Homo sapiens: one gene and its partners. The protein of the gene in region 1 purifies or fractionates together with the protein of each later gene. This does not show direct contact. Each region holds a gene or a part of one and is shown in the gene's direction. Other genes may lie near its edges.

Evidence for each region.
Region 2: the proteins of ACAT2 (region 1) and HADH fractionate together in Homo sapiens (co-fractionation; one large-scale study listed by BioGRID). This does not show direct contact.
Region 3: the proteins of ACAT2 (region 1) and TTC39C fractionate together in Homo sapiens (co-fractionation; one large-scale study listed by BioGRID). This does not show direct contact.
Region 4: the proteins of ACAT2 (region 1) and FAM174A purify together in Homo sapiens (co-immunoprecipitation; one large-scale study listed by IntAct). This does not show direct contact.
Region 5: the proteins of ACAT2 (region 1) and PRRC1 fractionate together in Homo sapiens (co-fractionation; one large-scale study listed by BioGRID). This does not show direct contact.
Region 6: the proteins of ACAT2 (region 1) and TRAPPC8 purify together in Homo sapiens (affinity purification with mass spectrometry, with the first as the bait; one large-scale study listed by BioGRID). This does not show direct contact.

The regions. Positions count from the first base shown.
Region 1 is NC_000006.12:159,772,045-159,775,544, forward strand, and holds part of ACAT2 (acetyl-CoA acetyltransferase, cytosolic), read left to right. Parts: intron 1-3,125; coding exon 3,126-3,269; intron 3,270-3,500. UniProt on the Homo sapiens protein: Involved in the biosynthetic pathway of cholesterol.
Region 2 is NC_000004.12:108,020,889-108,024,388, forward strand, and holds part of HADH (hydroxyacyl-coenzyme A dehydrogenase, mitochondrial isoform 2 precursor), read left to right. Parts: intron 1-2,585; coding exon 2,586-2,675; intron 2,676-3,500. UniProt on the Homo sapiens protein: Mitochondrial fatty acid beta-oxidation enzyme that catalyzes the third step of the beta-oxidation cycle for medium and short-chain 3-hydroxy fatty acyl-CoAs (C4 to C10).
Region 3 is NC_000018.10:24,084,254-24,087,753, forward strand, and holds part of TTC39C (tetratricopeptide repeat protein 39C), read left to right. Parts: intron 1-3,500.
Region 4 is NC_000005.10:100,562,874-100,566,373, forward strand, and holds part of FAM174A (membrane protein FAM174A precursor), read left to right. Parts: intron 1-3,500.
Region 5 is NC_000005.10:127,527,640-127,531,139, forward strand, and holds part of PRRC1 (protein PRRC1), read left to right. Parts: intron 1-2,654; coding exon 2,655-2,757; intron 2,758-3,500. UniProt on the Homo sapiens protein: May act as a regulator of the protein kinase A (PKA) activity during embryonic development.
Region 6 is NC_000018.10:31,908,629-31,912,128, reverse strand, and holds part of TRAPPC8 (trafficking protein particle complex subunit 8), read left to right. Parts: intron 1-2,368; coding exon 2,369-2,462; intron 2,463-2,484; exon of another isoform or gene 2,485-2,545; coding exon of another isoform or gene 2,546-2,585; intron 2,586-3,115; coding exon of another isoform or gene 3,116-3,118; coding exon 3,119-3,375; intron 3,376-3,500. UniProt on the Homo sapiens protein: Plays a role in endoplasmic reticulum to Golgi apparatus trafficking at a very early stage. Maintains together with TBC1D14 the cycling pool of ATG9 required for initiation of autophagy. Involved in collagen secretion.

The DNA.
Region 1 (3,500 bases):
GAAACCCCATCTCTACTAAAACTACAAAAAATTAGCCAGGTGTTGCAGCAGGTGCCTGTAGTCCCAGCTACTCTGGAGGCCAAGGGAGGAGACTTGCTTGAACCTAAGAGGCGGAGGTTGCAGTAAGCTGAGATATTGCACCATTGCACTCCAGCCTGGGCAACAAGAATGAAACTCCATCTCTAAATAAATAAATAAATAGTGTAAATAAATACTGTATAAAATGCAAAGCACTCAGAATAGCCAAAACAATTTTGAAGTCAGAAAATAGCACTTACATGCTCTGATTTTAACATTACCTATAAAGCTGTTGTAAACAAGACAATGTGGTTTTGGCATAAGGACAGAGAAAGAGAACAGAGTTCAGAAATAGACCCAGACTTATGCTTGTTTTCAACAAAGGCATCAATGGAATGAAATGGAGAAATTAAAGTCTTTTCAACAAATGGTGCTGGAATAACAGATTACTCACATGGGAAAGATGAACCTAGATCCCTACCTCACACCCTATATAAAAGCTAATTTGAGATAAATCGTGGATTTAAAAATAAAAGCAAAAAATGTAAAGCTTCTAGAAGTATATATAAGAGAATAGCTTTTACAGGGTGCAGTGGCAGGTGCCTATAGTCCCAGCTACTAGGGAGGCTGTGGTGGGAGGATCACTTGAGGCCAGCAGTTTGAGGTTGTATAGTATACTATGGTTGATTTTGCCTGTTAGTAGCTGCTGCACTCCAGCCTGGTCAACATAGTGAGACATCATCCAACAAAAAAAAAAAAAAAGAAAGAAAAACAGCTTGATAAGTAAAGACAAGACATAGAAAGCAAAGCAATAACTTTTTTGTGTGTGTGTGTGGAGACGGGTCTCACTCTGGCACCCAGATTGGAGTGCAGTGGCTCAATCTTGGCTCACTGCAACCCCCACCTCAGCCTCCTGAGTAGCTGGGACCACAGGTACTCACCACCATGCCTGGCTAATTTTTTGTATTTTTTGTAGAAATGGGGTTTCACCATGTTGCCCAGGCTGGCCTCAAACTCCTGAGCTCAAGGGATCCTCCCACCTCAGCCTCCCAAAGTGCTGGGATTACAGGTGTGACCCACCAAACCTGGCCAATTCTCACATTTGTAGAAGAGAGTTACAAATACGGAAAGGGAGAAGAATGTAGCTTGTGGTGTTAGGTTGCATTTTGGAGAACTCAAAATGCAGTATGAACTCAAGGTGTTACCATGAGTGTGTGTGTATATGTAAAATTATAAATAATACATATGGAAGTTTCTACTGAACAGACCTAGAAACAATGACAAACCAGTAACAACAAGCAGTCCTGACACCCAGATCTTCTAAATACATTTATCCACTAAAAGGAACTAAGGTTGTTTGGAGAAATGGCCCTTTCCAAGGCTAGGGAAAAAATGCTAAAAAATTAAGGACATGCTCAGGGACATGTTGAAAGCACACAGGAGGCAGCCTACGGGGCTTCCACTTTCCTGTAGTGGAATTTTGAACAATTTGAGCATCAGAGTCAGTAATGATAGTAATGGGTTGTAACTGCCCAAATTTTGAACAATTTCAGCGTGCAAATAAGTTATGATAGTAATGGGTTGTAACTGCCTAAATTTTGAACAATTTCAGCGTGCAAATAAGTAATGATAGTAATGGGTTATAACTGCCCAAGTATTGAAAAATTTCAGCATCAAAGTAAGTAATGAGAGTAATGAGTTATAACTTATTCAATAAAATGAAAATGTATGAGTCCATCCTGATATAAATAACTGAATAAATGGGAGAAAAGGAAAAGGTTTTCTTTGTGGTAAAATGCCAATTAATATCTTACCAATAGAAGGAATGTTGGAGTTAGAAAGTCATGAATGAATGCTAAAACTAGTGGGTGAAAATATGATGGGGAAGAAGATATTTGGATAATCCAAAAAGAACCTCTGATAAATTATTGATTACTTATAAATGAAAAAATGGTACCTTTAAAAGCTAGAAACCTGGTGAATACCAAACCATTTTAACCAAGTGATCAAAGATAACATCACCTGGGATAAACTGATTGTCATTTGTGTCCTAATAAGACTCACTGAGAAAAATCATACTATCATTCAGTGGTATACCTGCCTTTTGGCAGAATCTTAATCTAATTCTGAGGAAACATCAGACAAATCAAAATTGATGACCCTTAACAAAAGAACTCGCCCATGTTCTTCAAAAATATCAAGCTTAAGAAGCATAGTCTGAAGAACTGTTACAGACAAAAGCAAACTAGAGAGATTGATAGTTGTACAATGCATGCTTCTTTATTGGCTCAAATAAAGGAGCTAGAAGGACATTACTGAAATATAGGTGAAATTTGAATGTGGACCAAGGATTAGATAATAGTGTTTGATTCATGTTAAATTTCCTGATTTTTGTTTTGTTTTGTGAGACAGGGTCACCCAGGCTGGAGTGCAGAGGCACAATCATGGCTCACTGCAGCCTTGAACTCCTAGGCTCAAGTGATCCTTCTGCCTCAGCCTCCCAAGCAGCTAGGACTACTAGCTACATGGCACACACACCATGCCCGGCTAAATTTATTTTTAATGGAGACAGGGTCTCGCTGTGCCCAGGCTGGTCTCAAACTCCTGGGCTCAAGTGATCCTCCCACCTCGGCCTCCCAAAATGCTGGGATTACAGGTGTGAGCCGCCACACTTGGCCCAATTTCTTGAGTTTTATAACTGTGCTTATGTAAGAAAGTGGCCTTGTTTTGGGGAAGTATACACTGAAATTAAAATTTAAGAGTAAGAAGGCATTGTATCTCCAACTTTCTCTCAGATGGTTCAGAAAGAAAATATTAAAGCAAATGGAGGGAAAATATAAATGGTGACTCTGGGTGAAGGAAATTTCTGTAAGTTTACAATTATATAGAAAGGGAAGGAGAGAAGTATGACTCCTGAGAGTCACTGCAACATTTCCAAACCAACTGCCAGTGGCAGGCAGGGCCACCCCACACAGAGCATTGCACAGGCCACCATGAGCCTGCTAGCATATGTGGTCAGTCAGTGCTTGGTCAAATGTGGACGACTTGAGCTATCAAATGCCAGTTCATGAAAATGTTAGTTTTTTGCTGTTTTTCTCCTTTCCCAGCTGAAAATGTAGCCAAAAAATGGCAAGTGAGTAGAGAAGATCAGGACAAGGTTGCAGTTCTGTCCCAGAACAGGACAGAGAATGCACAGAAAGCTGGCCATTTTGACAAAGAGATTGTACCAGTTTTGGTGTCAACTAGAAAAGGTGAGTATATCATAGTGGTTTAAACATCAACCTATTTATAGGTAAGAGTAACATCTAAAAGAGTAATACATAGGAATCTTTAGAAATTATATCTTAGTTATGTTTTTCAGGTTGCAAATATATGTCCTGGATACATGAATGTGGGGAGGGGGTATGCTGGGTTTACAGGACACGGTAACATGGGACCTATGTCAGCACTCAAGCACTCTTGGTTCCAGAGCGTCCATGACC
Region 2 (3,500 bases), on another chromosome or scaffold:
TATCCTCCTCATTCCCTCACCACTACTCAGCATAAGCATTTTTAATAAGTCATAATAATGACCATTTTTTTTAGCATTTTCTCTCAAGTGACAACTTTGACCATCTTGCAATGGGACTTTTTCTGTCTTACTAACATTGCTTCTCAGCTTCCTCCTATTTTCTCCTATCCCCTAAGGCTGATTTTTTGAAGAAATTGAAGAATGAAGGGGAGGGATTTGGGGAACAGAAGAAACAGCATTTAACAGCTCTTATCTCATGCAGATTAAGAGCAAAGAAGTGGCATGCATTTCCAACATTTCAGTACTTAGGGACTAGTTGATTTCTTTAGTTATTATATTGTATATATAAGTGTTTTGGAGATAGGCACATTCTGTAGATTTACTTTAATAATGTTTTCAACTGCATTTATCTGGTAATGTATGCTTTTGTCTTTGGAAATGTAGTGTGTTGGTTGTTAACAGCTGATGTTTAGCAAATGCTACTATTTTTTAGAAAGTATTTTGTAAAAGTGTTCTTCTCTATTCAGTTTTTATTGTTTAACTTTAGCTCTTCCTTGTGTTGCTGGTGGTGTACACCAAAATAACTTGTATAATAAGCTAAGTGGCTCCTTTACTTAGGACTGGGCTCATTTAAATGTATATATATATGTATTTTTTTTCAGACTCTGTTGGAACTAGGAGCAGCGTATCTGTACAAATTACTGTTCGTTGAATGAATGAATGAGTGAATAAACATCCATCTCTCCTGTTTAAAAAGAAACAAACCTTCACTATTATTAACTCCCTTAAACCAAAAACTTAATTTGAAAACTCCATAGTCAGCAGTGTTTGTCCCCCAGCTCAGTCTGTGGTTTTGATGGAGACTTTTTAGACCTCCTTTCAAACAGCTCTGGGATTCTGTTTGATTTGTGGTACCCGCAGGGTGGCTTCTGGTCTTTCTCGTCCTGCTCCTCTTCTCCATCTTCACTGTGTCTTTTCCTGTTTCCATCCATTCACTTCTCTTGATGTCACGACATGACACCATGGCCCAGGCTGTGATCACACGAAAACAGGAGTGAGAACTCTTCTTTGTTTATATAGCACCTTTCATCCCTGCACAGACACTAGCTCATTAGTTCACCGAGTCAGACGGCCCTCTTGCACAGGGAAGACATGCCCATGATCCCCATTCCAGAGAAGAGAGGTGAGGCAGTTGCCTAAGATCCCATGAAGGGTCTAAAGTAAACCCTTTGACTCCGATTGAAGTTCTTTACTGGCCTTTACATTTTACATATATATATGTGTGTGTGTGTGTGTGTGTATGTGTGTGTGTATGTGTGTGTGTGTGTGTGTGTGTATAGTTGAATGAATGAGTGAATAAACACGCATCTCTCCTGTTTAAAAATATATATATATATACTTCATCTGGTTCTTTCCATTTACCATTACACATGAGTTCTCTAACTGCTTACTGAGGGCTGACTGTGCCGGGCATCGTGCTTGGTGCCATCCCCTACAGATGCCAGTAGGGCAGCCCTTGTGCCCTTGCCTGTACCTCACAGAGGTCAGGAGGGCTGCTGGAGCAGGTGGCAGGCCCCGCTTGCTGTAAATGAAAGCCTTCCCCAGAAGGATGAGTCTGTTCTGAAGCCAAGGGGCCGCTGGCCTCTAGAGCATCTGTGTGGCAGAGGGTGGAGTCATGGGAGAAATACTCAGGAATCCAGGAGAACTGTCACTTGGGCAAATTACTCACTTTCCTGGGGCTCCTCCTCCTCTATAATAGAAGATCAGGTCCCACGTAGAAGACTTTAAGGGCAACCATCATATACTTCCAGACTTCTAATAATTAAATAATGGAAGTCAGCATTTATTGAGCATTTGTGCTTAGGCTTTGTGCTTTACTCCCAATGTAATTTCATTCTCACCTCAACTTCCTGAGGTGAACAGAGTGATTTCAGTGTCATTTCAGTTTCAAGAAACATACTCAGGGTCACACAGCCAGTAAGTGGTGCAACTGAACCCAGGCTTGTCTCAACAACAAAGCCTGTAAAACTGTCCTATACACACACGTACACACATACACTTGTATTTTAAGCCGTGATTTTGTACATTCTACAGTACACTGTTGTCTTTTTTTTTTTTTTTTTGAGACGGTGTCTTGCTCTGTCACCCAGGCTGGAGTGCAGTGGCATGATCTCGGCTCACTGCAACCTCCACCTCCCAGGTTCAAGCAATTCTTCTGCCTGGGCCTCCCAAGTAGCTGGGACTACAGGCACATGCCACCATGCCCAACTAATTTTTGTATTTTTAGTAGAGATAGGGTTTCACCATGTTAGCCAGGATGGTCTCGATCTCTTGACTTCATGATCTGCCCGCTTCAGCCTCCCAAAGTGCTGGGATTACAGGCATGAGCCACCACATTTGGCCTCTGTTTTAAAATAGTCATTTTGGGAAATACATTGTTTCTGGCTTGAGATTCCTACTTCTATGCTGAAACTCAAACTATTTTTGTTGCCTATATGGAGCCTTTTGATCAATCATTCCTTGAACCATTCTACCGAAGTTGCTTGCTGACACTCTGGTCATAATTCTCTGCTTTGCATTTCCAGGTCATTAAAACACCAATGACCAGCCAGAAGACATTTGAATCTTTGGTAGACTTTAGCAAAGCCCTAGGAAAGCATCCTGTTTCTTGCAAGGTAAGAGTATGGGTAGCTTGGGAAGGAGGTAGTTCTTTTCTTCTTGGACCCTGACTTGTTCCTGGTAGAATTCTTCTCATAGAATGATGTGAAAGAAGGAGCATTGTATACTGCAAGCTTGTCCACATGCTGTAAAGAGCAATCCGTGCCTCCTGTTCTAGTTTGTAGACAGGGAAACTGGACTCCTAAGCCATGCCTAAGGCCATTATGTGGATAGTCTGAGACCTGAATGGAGCTCAGGACACCAGCTGAGTAGAAGACACGGGACTGCTCTCTGTCCTGGCTTTTGTCTCCTGATGAATGGCTGCATTTTCATAAATGATTTTAGGTACAGCTTGGTAAACACATACCTCCCTAACAGAAAATGAGGGCTTTACTTTTGCAAGAAATACTACAGATGGTGAAATAAATGATAAGACAGTGAGAGAGCAACCTGCCAAAATAGCAATAAGGAACCTGTTTCTCACCGGGAAGTTGCATTATGTTTTTATTGTTTGTTGTTTTGTTTTTCAAGAAGCAGCATGGTTTAGTGGGAAGCCTGCTTGACCTCCATCTTTTTTTTCCCCTTTCTTAAGCTGCCCAGTTATTGTATATAAAATAATCCCAGTTGCTGAAATGATAACCTACCTGAAGGTAATTATTTTGATTACCTTCAGTTTCTCCATTTGCTTTAGTTCCTCTTTAGTTCCCCCAAAACTCGGGGACTATACTTATGCATGACTTTGCAGTTTTTCTTAAGGGGTAGTTGTGTCACAAAATGCTACACCATTACAAAGATTTACATATAAGTCATCTACTTTTTTTTTAACTGTAATCCTTTGTATC
Region 3 (3,500 bases), on another chromosome or scaffold:
CAGGTGTATCACCTGAGGTCAGGAGTTCGAGACCAGCCTGGCCAACATGGTGAAACCCTGTTTCCACGAAAAATACAATAAACTAGCTGGGCATGGTGGTACGTGCCTGTAATCCCAGCTACTTGGGAGGCTGAGACACGAGAATCGCTTGAACCTGGGAGGCAGAGGTTGTAGTGAGCCGAGATTGCGCCACTGCACTCCAGCCTGGGTGACAGAGTGAGACTCCATCTCAAAAATAAATATATAAAATAAAATTGAGATATAGTTCAGAAAGCCCACCAAGATCTGAATTATTTAAACCTGTGTCCAAATTGTTTTTGTTCTCATTATCTTGCAATTGTTTTTCTTTGCATACAGGCTCGTGAGCCCTTGGTTGTGTTTCTCCCTTTTTTCTCTCACTGTTTTTTTTCTTTTCCTTTTTGAGACGGGTCTCACCCTGTTGCCCAGGCTGGCATGCAGTGACACAGTCATAGCTCACTGCAGCCTCAGCCTCAACCTTCCAGGCTCAAGCGATCCTCCGACCTCAGCCTCCAAAGTAGCTGGGACTACTGCTGTGCGACACCATGCCTGGCTAATTTTTGAATTTTTATTTTTAGAGATGGGGTCTCCCTATTTTGGCCAGTCTGGTCTCAAACTCCTGGGCTCAAGAGATCCTCCAGCCTCGGCCTCCCAAAGTGCTGAGATTACAGGTGTGAGCCACTGTGCCTGGCCTCAGGATGAGTGCTTTCTTAGATTTAGATTTCTTCAAGGGCAGATTTAGATTTCTTCAAGTTCTGAGTAGCTTTGAACACGATGCTACAGGGTTTAGTGTTTAACAGAGATTTGCTGGGTTTAGTGTTTAACAGATATTTATTACAAGGGGAAAGTAAATTCATGGTGACAGGTTACTGTTTCTAATTGGTGCATTGACGAATAAAGTGTAGAATTGAGAGATTTACCTCGGTCATCTCTTCAGCGATCCATCTAGAAGCCTAAAGTTTAAAATTGTGTGCAGCAGGGCAGTGAGGCCCCTTAGCTTTGGACATTTGTTAGAATTCTCTCTCTTTATTCTGCTGATGAATGAATGCTCTAAATTGGGTTTTGAAGTTGTTAAACAGAAATGTGAAAATCAGAATTTATATTTTGTTATACTTGCCATTTGAGTAATTTTTCATTTTAAAACAAAATTGCTTAACTTTTGGTTAAGCTAATAAGTTTTTTTCCCAAAAATCTTACTTTGACATGGTTTTAGTTTGTGCCACGACTAATTCCTATAGAGGATTGAGTGAATACTAAACATAAGCAGTCATTCCTTGTTGTCAAGATGGTTCTAGAAATAAGGAAGCCACAGCTTCATCAAAGGATTCCTGTAAATATGGTTTTTGGAGGTACATAGTCCACATTATAGCTCTTAGTAGATATGTAGTCTATTTGGGGGTAGATAATTGTGATCAGAGTGCAGAGGGTAGGTGCTAGAACTCCTTCACAGTTAAGCGGCACTTAACACAGTTAAGTTTTAAGAAAAAACACACAAGATCTGTGACTACGGTTATTTAGTGAGCTGTAGCTTTAGGGCCAGACAAAATATGATGAGTGTTTCTGTTTGGCTCTTCCCAAAGGCCCAGAGGATGAAAAGATTTTAAGGCTAACTTGAAATATGGTTGTTATTATCCCCAAGGTGCCCAGACAGCAGCGTTTCATTGCTCTTCCCAGGTATGTGTAGGACGGTATCAGAAATGACCATGTCATCCTTCATTTGCAGATGAGGAACTCTGCCCAGGGAGGCTGTGATATAGCCCTTGCCAAAGGCTGTTTGTAAGGCCTTGAAGGCCCTGACTCAGTTTATGAAACTTACATGACTCCTTCCAATGAATTTGCTTACAAAGAATTTTTTTTCTTTTCAGTGAACATTTAGGTTAGAAATAGGGCCCCTTGAGCTCTTTTTATCAACACGTACTCACAGAACATGGTCTAGGGGCTTTAATTTAGGGCAGGTGCATTATATGACACCATCTTTGTTTCTTCAGTGACTCAGAATCTGTGAAATTATTTGAACAGCTGCTTTTGTGTAAGCTTGCTAACATGCAGGGTGACTGTCTCAATCTGTGCCCGTCAGTGTTCATTCTTCTGTACTCGTTATTTTCAAATCCTGTTGAGTGCCCACTTTTTCTTTTAGTTTTGTTAACTTTTTACGTACTTTGCCTTTCGTTGTTTGGGACTCTGTAGAGTGAATATAGGAGGATTTCTTCCACAGATCTGCTCCTGTCGTGCCACTTGCATAAACCTCATTGTGGTGACTTGGCTGTTTTCTGTTATGGCCTCAGTTGATGTTGCAGTGAGTGCTACACCATGATGGTGAGGTCCGTTTGCACCCCAGCTGGTGAGCACAGGATCCTCTTTGCCAAACTGCAGAAAGAATTCCCTTGTCTCGCTGCCTCCGCTTCTCCCCACTGCGTGTCTATAGTACTGTGCCTCGAACCTTCTCTGCCCACTTGTGTTGTCCTTACAGCTGATCCTATTTTCCTTGACTCCTCCCATGTGACTTACTACATTGCTGGGGGGAATGAATGTGTGAATACAGTACCTAGCATGTGGCAAACGCTGTCTAAGTAAGGGTGTGATGGTGTTTATTATTCCTACTGAGTGCTTAAGCATGGGAAGTCAGGTATCACATTTTCGTGTTTTGTTTTTTTTTTTCTTTTGGGGAAAAAGAACTTGTTTGGTGTTGAGAGCTGTCAATAAAGCAAGGCCTGTGATTGGCAAAATTGGTTATGGGTGTAGCTATAGGAGATGTATGTACTATACAGCTGTTTACTTATCCCTGAATTTCCACAATGCAAACAATGTTTGGGAGGCTGACCAATGGGTTATATAGGAATCTCAATTTTCAAATGTGAATTGGTAGTTATAATTTTGAATTTCTGTATTTTCCATTAATGTTCACTTAATTTTCATTCAGTTAGACCTATGGTAGTGTTATGTCCATTAAGATACAAGCAATTAATGAGTATTTTTCTTGATTATTTTTACAATATTAGGGACAAGTCTATATTTTCATAAACTGTTTTCAGTTGTCTCTGCTCTTTCTTCTTTAAGCAATACAGATTTACACAACTTTTTTCTCTTTCAGCTTTAACAATCTGCTTTGTATGTGACATGTAAGGATTTGGTTTTCTGTAAATACATACTTTCACACACATACCTTATATGGTGTGACTAGTAATGTAACTAATTTTTAATATTATTTACCTCTAAAAAAGTGTTCAGATATTCAAATAAATGAAAGTCGTTTTCTATAAAGTTAATGAACATATTCTAACAAAGTTCCTATGCAAGCATTTTGAGAACTGTTTTTTTTTTGTTTTTTTTTGAGACAGAGTCTTGCTCTGTCACCCAGGCTGGAGTACAGTGGTGCAATCTTGGCTCACTGCAACCTCCGCCTCCCGGGTTCAAGTGATTCTCCTGTCTCAGCCTCCCGAGTAGCTGGGATTACAGGTGTGCACCACCATGCCTGGCTGATT
Region 4 (3,500 bases), on another chromosome or scaffold:
AGAATGGGGAAAAAAGCCAACAAAGATTCAACCTAATAAGGAAAGACATCTTGGAATCCAGAGGGATTACTTGGGTGAAGGAGAATTAGAGTCCAGAGTCAGGTACAAATGCAAAGAAAACAGAAATCTTAGGATTACAGAAAAGAAGATGACTCAACAAAAATTGGACTACTAAGTCCTGTATATCTATATTTATATCTATATATGTCTATCCATCTATCTATCTAAGCTGTTTATATATATGCACACACACAAAGGAACTTTTAGTAATGCTGATAATTTGTTCATTTAATACAAATATGTTCATGAATTATACATTTTAATAGTATTACAGCCTGAATAGGCAAACATGAACAAAACAATTGCATCTGTTCTTCAGGCACTCACTTTCAATTAAAGACGCATATAAGATGAAAGAAAAGGGACAGAAACTGATATTCCATGCAAATGGTAACCAAAACAAAGCAGGGGTTGCTAAATTTATATCAGACAAATTAGATTTTAAGTCAAAAACTATCTCTTGAGACAAAAAAAAAAAAGATCATTACATAGTAAAGGAGTCAATTCACCAGGAAGATATGACAATTAGTATGACTCTATCAGAGCACCTAAATTATAAAGCAAATATTGACAGATCTGAAGTAGGAAATTGACAGCCATAAAATAATTTATGGGACTTTAATATCCCACTTACAATAATGAATAGACTATCTAGACAGAAAATCAATAAAGAAACCTCTGACTTAAACAACACTGTAGACCAGTGGACCTGACAGACATATACAGAACTTTGCACCCAACAGCAGAAGAATTCACATTCTTCTCAAGTGCCCATGGGATGCACTCTGAGATAAATCATCTTAGGTCACAAAACAAGTCTTAACAACTTTAAGAAGATTGAAATTATTCCAAGTGTCTTTTCCAACCTCCATGGAATAGAAATAGAAATCAATAACAGCAGGAAAACAGGAAAAATTATAAATATGTGGAAACTAAACGATATAGTTTGAATAAACCTCCAGGCCAAATCTCATGTCAATTGTAACCCTCCATGCTGAAATTGAAGCCTGGTCAGAGATGTTTGGGTCATGGGGACTGATCCCTCATGGCTTGGTGCTGTCCTTGTGATAGTGAGTTCTTGCAAAATGTGGTTGTTTTAAGTGTGTAGCACCTGCTCCTCCTTGCTCCTATATTTGCCGTTTGAAGTACCTGATCCCATTTCACCTTGCACCATGAGTAAAAGCTCCCTGATATATGCTCAGAAGCCAAGCAGATGTCAGCACCATGCTTGTATAGTCTGCAGAACCACGAGCCAATTAAACCTCTTTTCTTTATAAATTACCCAGTCTCAGGTATGTCTTTATAGCAATGAAAGAATGGACTAATACACTGAACAACACACTCTTGAGCAATTATTGGGTCAAATAGGAAATCAAAGGGAATTTTAAGAGCTATTTTGAGACAAAAAAAAAATGGCATAACAAAACTTATGGGATGCAGCAAAAGCATTGCTAGGAGAGAAGTTTATAGCAATAAATGCTTATGCTATGAAAGAAGAAAGACTTCAAATAAACAACCTAGCTTTACCCTTTCAGAAAGTGGCAAAAGAAAAACACTTTAAGCCTAAGCCTAAAATTAGCAGAACGAGGGAAATAATTAAGATTATAATAGAAATACATTAAATAGAGTTGAAAAAGACAATGAGAAAAATCAATAAAATTAAGATTTTGCGTATAGAAAAGATAAAATCAATAAACCATTAGCTAGACTAAGCAAAAAAGAAAAGGCTCAAATAAATAAAATCAGAAATAAAAGAGAAGAAATTACAATGGGTACCTCAGAAATTAAAGAAGACATGAGACTACTATGAACAATTATATGCCAACAAATTTGATAACCTAGAAAAATAGATAAATTCCTAGAAACATACAATCTATGAAACTTGAATCAAAAAGAAATTCGAAGTCCAAACAGACAAGTAACAAATAAGGAAATTGAATCAGTAGTCAAAACCTTCCAACAAAGAAATGTCCAAGACCATATGGCTTCATGGGTAAATTATACCAGACATTTAAAGAAGAATTAATACTCGTCCTTCTCAAATTATTCTGACAAATAGAAGAAGAAGCACTTTAAAACTCATTTTATGAGGCTAGTGTTATCCTGATACCAAAGCCAGACGAAGGAAAGCAAACCGCAGGCCAATACTCCTGATGAACATGATACAAAAGTCCTCAATAAAATGCTAGTTACCCAAATTCAGCAGCATATTAAAATGATGATACACCATGATTAAGTGGGATTTGTCCCTGGAATGCAAATATCTTTCAACACATGCAAATCAATGCAATAGAACACATTAATAGGTTGAAAGAAAAAAAGCCACAAGATCATTTCAGTAGACACAGAAAAAGCATTTGACAGTGCTATCCACATAGACAAATGAGGTTGCATCAAACTAAAATGCTTCTGCACAGCCAAGTAGATAATCATCAGAGTGAAAAGGAACTTTAATAATGGGACAAAATATTTATAAACCATATATGTATATACATATATATATGAGTTAATATCCAAAATTTATAAGGAGTGCATGTAAGTTAATAGCCAAAAATCTCACATAATCTGATTTTAAAATGGGCACATGACCCCTGTACTCTGTTGGTGGGAATGTAAGTTGGCACAGCTGTTATGGAAAGCAGTACAGAAATTCCTCAATAAATTAAAAATATAATTACCTTATGATTTAGCAGTTTTGCTGCTGGATATATATCCAAAGGAAACCATTATTACATAGAGAGATCTGCACTCCCATGTTCACTGCAGCATTATTCATATTAATCAAGCTGTGGAAATAACCTAAATGTGCATTGACAGATGTATTAGTCCGTTTTCATACTGCTTGGAAGAAATATCGGAGACTGGGTAATTTATAAAGAAAAAGAGGTTTAATGGACTCACAATTCTGCATGGCTAGGGAGGCCTCACAATCATGGCAGTAGGCAAAGGAGGAGCAAAGGCACATCTTACATGATGGCAGGCAAGAGAGCATGTGTAGGGGAACCACCCTTTATAAAACCATCAGATTTCATGAGACTTATTCAATATCATAAGAACAGCATGGGAAAAACTTGCCCCTGTGTTTCAATTACCTCCCACCAGGTTCCTTCCATGATACCTGAGGATTAAGGGAGCTACAATTCAAGATGAGATTTAGGTGGGGGCACAGCCAAACCATATCAACAGATAAATGAATTTGAAAAGTATGATATATATATATATATATATATATATATATGTACATATAATATATATAATTACATGTATGATATACTATTGAATATTATTCAGCCTTAAAAAAAAGAAAATCTGGACATTTGCAACAACATGGATGAACATGGAGGAATTTATGTTATTTGAAACAATCCAAACATAGAAAGACAGATATTGCATTATCTCACTTATATATGGAATCTAAATAGTCAAGCTTATAGTAGTGA
Region 5 (3,500 bases), on another chromosome or scaffold:
GTCCCATGTACTCAGAGGCTAAGGTGGTAGGATTGTTTGAGCCCAGGAGGTCCAGGCTGCTTGAGCTGTGATCATGATACTACATTCCAGTCTAAGTGACAGAGTGAGACACTGTCTCAAAAAAAAAAAAAAAAAAAAACCAAAAAACTATGATGAGCACTGTTGTATGTAAATCTTTATGGACATCTTTTTTTCCTCCGAATTAATTCCTGATGAACATTTGAGTGAACATTTGAAGAAATTGATACCTATTCCACTTCAGGAGGTTTATACCAAAATACACTGGTATAACATTTTTCACTTGCCAGCAGTAGTTATTAATTTGGACTAGGGTATTTTCTGATTTGACAGGCAAAAAATAATACCACATTTTAATTTGCTTTCCTTTGCTACTGAATTTGAACATTTTCTCGTATGATTTTTAGCCATTTGTATTCTTCTTTTGTGAAATATCGGTTATGTTCTTTGCCTAGTTTTAAATTGGGATGATTTTCTTTTCTTATGAATTTGTAAGAGCTCCTAATACAGTAAGAATACTTTTCTATATGCTCTCATATGTTGCAGTTTTCTCAATTTTTAGTTTACATTTTCATTTTAATACCCTTTTTGACAGAAAAGTTCAATTTCAGGAGTCAGTTCTGTCAGTCTTTTCTTTTCTTTTTTCTTTTCTTCTCTTTTCTTTTCTCTTTTTTGAGACAAAGTCTCGCTCTTGTCGCCCAGGCTGGAGTGCAGTGGTGCGATCTTGGCTTACTGCAACCTCTGCCTTCTGGGTTCAAGCAATTCTCCTACCTCAGCCTCCCAAGTAGCTGGGATTACAGGCATCTGCCTCCATGCCTGGCTAATTTTTTTGTATTTTTAGTAGAGACGGGGGTTCACCATGTTGGCCAGGCTGGTCTCGAACTCCTGACCTCAGGCGATCTGCCCGCCTCGCCTCCCAAAGTGCTGGGATTACAGGTGTGAGCCACCGCAGGCAGCCTCTCCTTTTCTTTACATTTTTTTTTAATGCTAAAAAAGACCTTTTCTCACTACGATACTGTGATAAATGTTCTTCTGTGATCCCTTTCTAGTTCCCTTAATGTTTAATTTTTTAGACACTTAGCGTTTAATATAGTTGATATTTCTTTACTATATGAGGTAGAGATCAAACTTAATTTTCTTCCAGCTACTCAATGGAGTATTTCAATATCATATCCCCATTGATTTGGTATGATCCCTATATTATCTTCCTTAAGAAATTGTGTGTTAAAATCAGCTTCTGGCCTCTGTATTCTAGTCCACTGCTGTTTCCCTGTTCTTGTAGTAGAGCACACTGTTTTAATTACTTTTACTTTGTGTTCATTGTACTAACGTGTACTGAGGTGGGGATGTGGAACATTCAGTGATAAGTAAGATAGGACAGTTCAAGTCTGCATTTATAAATGTATATCAGTATTTAGTTGTGTAAGTTGTATAAGCTGGCTGATTTTTCTTTTAAATTTTTCTTTACTCATCTTTCCCAATTTTTTTTGCAATGAATTTTGAAATCATTCTGCCAAGTTCCAATATTCTGCTAAGGGTTTGTTTGCAATTTTATTATTATAATTATAATTTATTATTATATTAAAGATTTAAAATTGGTAGATGATTGGCTGATTTGTAGTATTTGAGCTTCATGTTTCAGGAATGTGGCATTTTTCTAAGCTTGTTTATTTTTTAATACCCCTCTGTACTTTTTTAAAAAGTTTTTTTTTGCATACAGACTACAACATTTTGTCCCTCGTTAAGAGCATGTGTCAGTGTGTTTGTCATGAGTTGTAATACCCAGTTCAACTCTATAGGTCTTGTAAATAGTAAGTCATGATGTTTCAGCATATGGTTGGTTGGCAGTCTTAAATTTCAATTTTATGAACTCATCTTTTCCTGAGTCACCTTAGTTTAATGGCAGATTGGAAGATGGGGAATCATGGCAGGTTAGTCAGATGCCATCTCAGGAGGCACTGCTCCCTGGAGTGTCTTTTACCCTTTGTGAAGTATCGCACAAGAAGGAATACTCAAGACTTGGTTCCTTTTAGTAGTAACGGCTCTAAGAATCCAGAGGAATAGATCTGAATATAAATGGCGAGTTTGGGAATGTACAAAACAAGAAACAAGAAGTAGGAAAAAGAAGAAACTAGTAGAAGATAGCAAAATGTTGTACGTTAAGGTAATAAGTAACTGTTCTGCCCCCAGACGAGAGGTGTTTTTACTCTTTTTATTTTTTTTATTAGGGAACAAGTATGGACTTACGTAGACACCTGATTGGGACCTTTATTTGGGACCCTAAGGGACAAGTTTTGCCCAATCTTTTATATAAATAAGTAGAAGTGAAATTATATATATGTATATACACACACATATATATGTATATATAGTATAGCATCCTTTCCATACCCATGCTACTCAAAGCGTGATCTGTAGATTGCTGCTGGTCTACACACTGCTGAGTCAGGAAAAAAAATTGAGAGTATCATTTAGAAACTTAATAGCAATTTGATATTGTCATGACCTTATATATCTTACAAAAGTACTGGTTTAGGATGCATTGGAAACTTTTAAAAAAGTTTTCTTCACAATCATGAAGATCATGGTGTTCCTCACTTAGAGTGAATACTTACATATTGATTTGTTTTATGCAGGGTGTGGCTGGGAATCCTATGGTGAAGTCTGTGCTTGATAAGACAAAACATTCAGTAGAAAGCATGATTACAACGCTGGACCCTGGCATGGCTCCCTATATCAGTATGTACATAAGTTAGACCGGTATCTGCCATTTTTTTTTTAAGGGTATGTCCACATCAGCCACTAATTGTAATTCTCTGTTCGTTTCCACTGATTGTGTAATCAGTGGAAATTCTTATTATATTCTTGCATTAATTTAATTGTCAGTCTTATTTTTTGGTGTTACTAATTCATCTTTTTTAAAAGTCATTAAATAAATTTTGAAAATCCCACAGAATGATCCTAGAAGGAGTAAAAACCATGAATTATTGGTATACTTGCTGATTTTAATTTTAAATATAGGTTAGCATTGCTTTATATGAATTTTACTTTATTCACTACTGACATTTGAAGTGATGTTTGTTTCATACTTTTTTTTTTTTTTACATTTCTCCTGTTATCTATTTTAATTAAATGTTTGTGTGTAATTGAGGGATAATATTTTTGGAGGAAGCAAATCTAGTTAATAATATCTAATGACTGGGTATATTGGGAAAGCTATTTTTAACCACCTCTGAACACTAATCATCCAGAATCATCCAGACAGTTGATAGATACTGTCTGCTATTTAATTTTTATGTACATATCCAATATGTGAAAAAATATCACAAGGCTTAGTGACCAATTATTAGTAATTCTGTAAAAGATAACTTTTAAGTCAAAATTGTGCAGCAGGTACCTGAACAGCGATTTCAGTGGCAATAAAAAGCCAATAGCTTTCACAAGTCTTGACTATGTTGGTAGTTTACTGTCTAGTAAATATC
Region 6 (3,500 bases), on another chromosome or scaffold:
CTTTCCGTTGATTTCCCTTCTTTATGTACTCTCAGGAGTTACTGTTTTTTAATTACTCCTTTCTTAACCTCGAGTTCTAGAATAAGATTGATTGTCCTATTGGCTTAAGTTGATGGGCGTTTGATGTTTTGTCAGACTTCTAAGGTACAATAGTATGCCGCTTGGTAGTAGTCAAATGCCAAGTTCCTATGCTTAGTTCAGATAATCGAGAGTCACTGTTTTTTGTTTAGAAGAAAATTTTTTTTTTTTTTTTTTTTGAGACAGGATCTCGCTCTGTCGCCCAGGCCTTGGTCTCCCAAAGTGCTGGGATTACAGGTGTGAGCCATCATGCCGGCCTAGAAGAAATTCTTTTTTTTTTTTTTTTTTTTTTTTGAGACGGAGTCTTACTCTATCGCCCAGGCCGGAGTGCAGTGGCATGATCTCGGCTCACTGCATGATCTCGGCTCACTGCAACAGCTGCCTCCTGGATTCAAATTATTCTCATGCCTCAGCTTCCCGAGTAGCTGGGATTACAGGCGCCCGCCACCACGCCTGGCTAATTTTTGTATTTTTAGTAGAGATGGGGTTTCACCATGTTGTCCAGACTGGTCTCGAACTCCTGACCTCAAGTTATCCCCCTGCCTCAGCCTCCCAAAGTGCTGAGCCACCACACCCGGCCAGAAATTTTTTTTTTTTTTTGAGACGGAGTCTCACTCTGTTGCCCAGGCTGGAGTGAAGTGGCGAGATCTCGGCTCACTGCAACCTCCACCTCCTGGGTTCAAGCGATTCATTTTTAGTCGAGACAGGGTTTCACCCTGTTGGCTAGGCTGGTCTTGAACTCCTGACCTCAAGTGATCCACACGCCTCAGCCTCCCAGAGTGTTGATATTACAGGCGTAAGCCACAGCGCCTGGCCTAGAAATTCTTAAGTAAATGGAAAATATATTTATATTGTTCAATTAAACTATATTATGCACTCTGTGTGTGACATTTAAAAAATCAATTACAAAGCTTATGTAATTTTTGATCTTCTGATATAAGTATTGTTTAATCTGTTTATTTGCTTTATTTTTCTGTCTCATAAATGGAATCTTTAAATCTAAATGTAGTGCTATCATGGTATTTTACTGACTTTAGTATTGAGGTGATTACTGACGTTCTTTAAGATAATGCTGGGGAAAAGCAAAGAAGTACCAGTTGGATGTGAAGGAACTTTATTTTTAAAAATGGTCTTTTAGGGGCCATTCTAAGAATAAGAACAGTACTGAAAAAAATACACTTTAGAGTTCAGTCACCTAAGGTTGTGAAGGGGAACATGAAGAAGATTGTGCAGTATGAGAACTTTTAGCAGAAAGCAGAAATATCAGAAATCTATGCCTTAGCATCCTAGAAGCTCAAAGTTGGAGAATAGTTTAGAGGTTTTACATCCAATGCTTGATCTAATGCTTTAATTTCTTTAAACTTACGAATGACTGCGTCTGTTGACAGTACTCACTGTATTCTTATTAAGTGACCTATTGCATGTCTGATCACCCAAAAATTCTCTCATTTTGCTTAAGGATCAATAAAAAATTCTTGACCTTTGCTTGTACGCTTGATCCTTTGGGAGTGACTATGTTAGTTTTCCATTAAGACAACTTTCAAAATATAGAAGGATAATTCTCATGTCCTCTTTTATATTTTTCCAGTCTAAATATGCCTAGTTTCTGCAACTCTTTCTCAAGGAGTGGCTTCAGACTTTCTTGTCCTGGTCACTTTCTTCTTGAGTTCTAGTTTATGTAAATTCCCTCAAAGTGTGACACTCAGAATAATACATCATATTTACTGGTCTTGTAGAGTAGTCTGGGTATTTTTAGTTTAAGTGTTTTTTTGTTAACTGAGAAACCAGTTCCTTTGCACAAATAAACGTTGCGTTAGATATTTTTCTAAAACACTTCAGTATATTCAGAATTCACTCCAACCTGCTTACACTGTGACCCAAAGAATTTCATATCTGTGCCTCTCTTCTTTCCCCGTCTGACTCTAGTAGTCCATCTCTCTTGCCATTATTCCTTACTTAAGAGGCATAAGCATATGTATGTGCTTATATGAACACTCGTGTATATACATATCATATATAAGTAGATATCCTGAGAGATAATTTGAATTAAGAAGAATTAGGATAGTAGCTTGAGTGTGAAAGGGGATTTAAGAATATAGTAGGTGTGAGTTGGAGTGATAGAATAAGATCCATGGAAGAAGTTATGAATTTGGAGGACGAGAAAATGCTCACTGTAGCAAATAAATGAGGCCAACAGTTAGCAGAGTAACCATAGTTGTTGATGGATTTGATAGTATATTAAGTATGATTAAGTATAACTGCTAATGCTTTTTAAATTTTATTTTGATAGGAATCATATGAAGATGGCCCTTGTACTATAACTTCAAATAAGAATTCTGATAATAACTTGCTTTCATTGGATGGATTAGATAACGAAGTCAAAGGTCTTGATATATTTTCTCTAAGTTTCTCTTTTGATTGAAAATATGCACTGTTGTCAGATCATGCTAACCTTTATAGATAAAAGATGGGGGAAATTTTTCATAATACAGAAAGATATTGGGCAGGTTAGTTTTTCTTCTGAAGATTTTACTGAGCTACTTGAGTTTGTTTTTGACACTTAAAAATTTGTTTTATATGAGTAGTGTATAGATTTCTTTTAAAATATTTTGTAGAAAGCAAGGGAAGATGTGATGCACAGCATTAATTATTTAAAAATTTACATGATTTTGAGAGCTTTATTTCTGACTTTATGATTTTTGTAATGATAACAAATTTTTTTTGTTATATTTTTTCTTACGGCTTAGTTGTACTATTTAAAAGTCATTCTTTATATTATTTAAAATAAAGTATTTTTCTCCATTTCCTGGTTTATACCGATTTTCAAATTACTAATACAGGTACCAAAACAAATATTAACTCAAGCTCATTAATTTTGGGGCTGGGGGATGTTACTGCTGTTTTATCTTAGACATTTACCTATACTGAAAGATAAAGGATTTTAACATTCTGCTTTTTTTTTTTCTTTAGCAGTATGGTAGTATTAGCACTGTTTTCTGTTGCATTCTGAGAGTAAAAGAAATAATCTCTTTTTCAGTAGATGGCTTACCAAATAACTTTAGAGCTCACCCACTTCAGTTGGAGCAATCCAGTGACCCTTCTAACAGTATTGATGGCCCAGATCATCTAAGATCTGCTTCATCGTTACATGAAACAAAGAAAGGAAATACTGGAATAATTCATGGTGCATGTTTAACACTTACTGATCATGATAGAATTCGACAGTTTATACAAGAGTTCACATTTCGGGGCCTTTTGCCACATATAGAGAAAACAATTAGGCAATTAAACGATCAGGTAAGGTTTGATTTTTTGGATTAGTATTTTAAAAATTTAAGTAAATAGTAAATTTAAGAATTATTAAACGTATTTGAAGTTTTGTTTTATTTTCGTTTTAAGATAGGCCAATATTAAGACTTCCC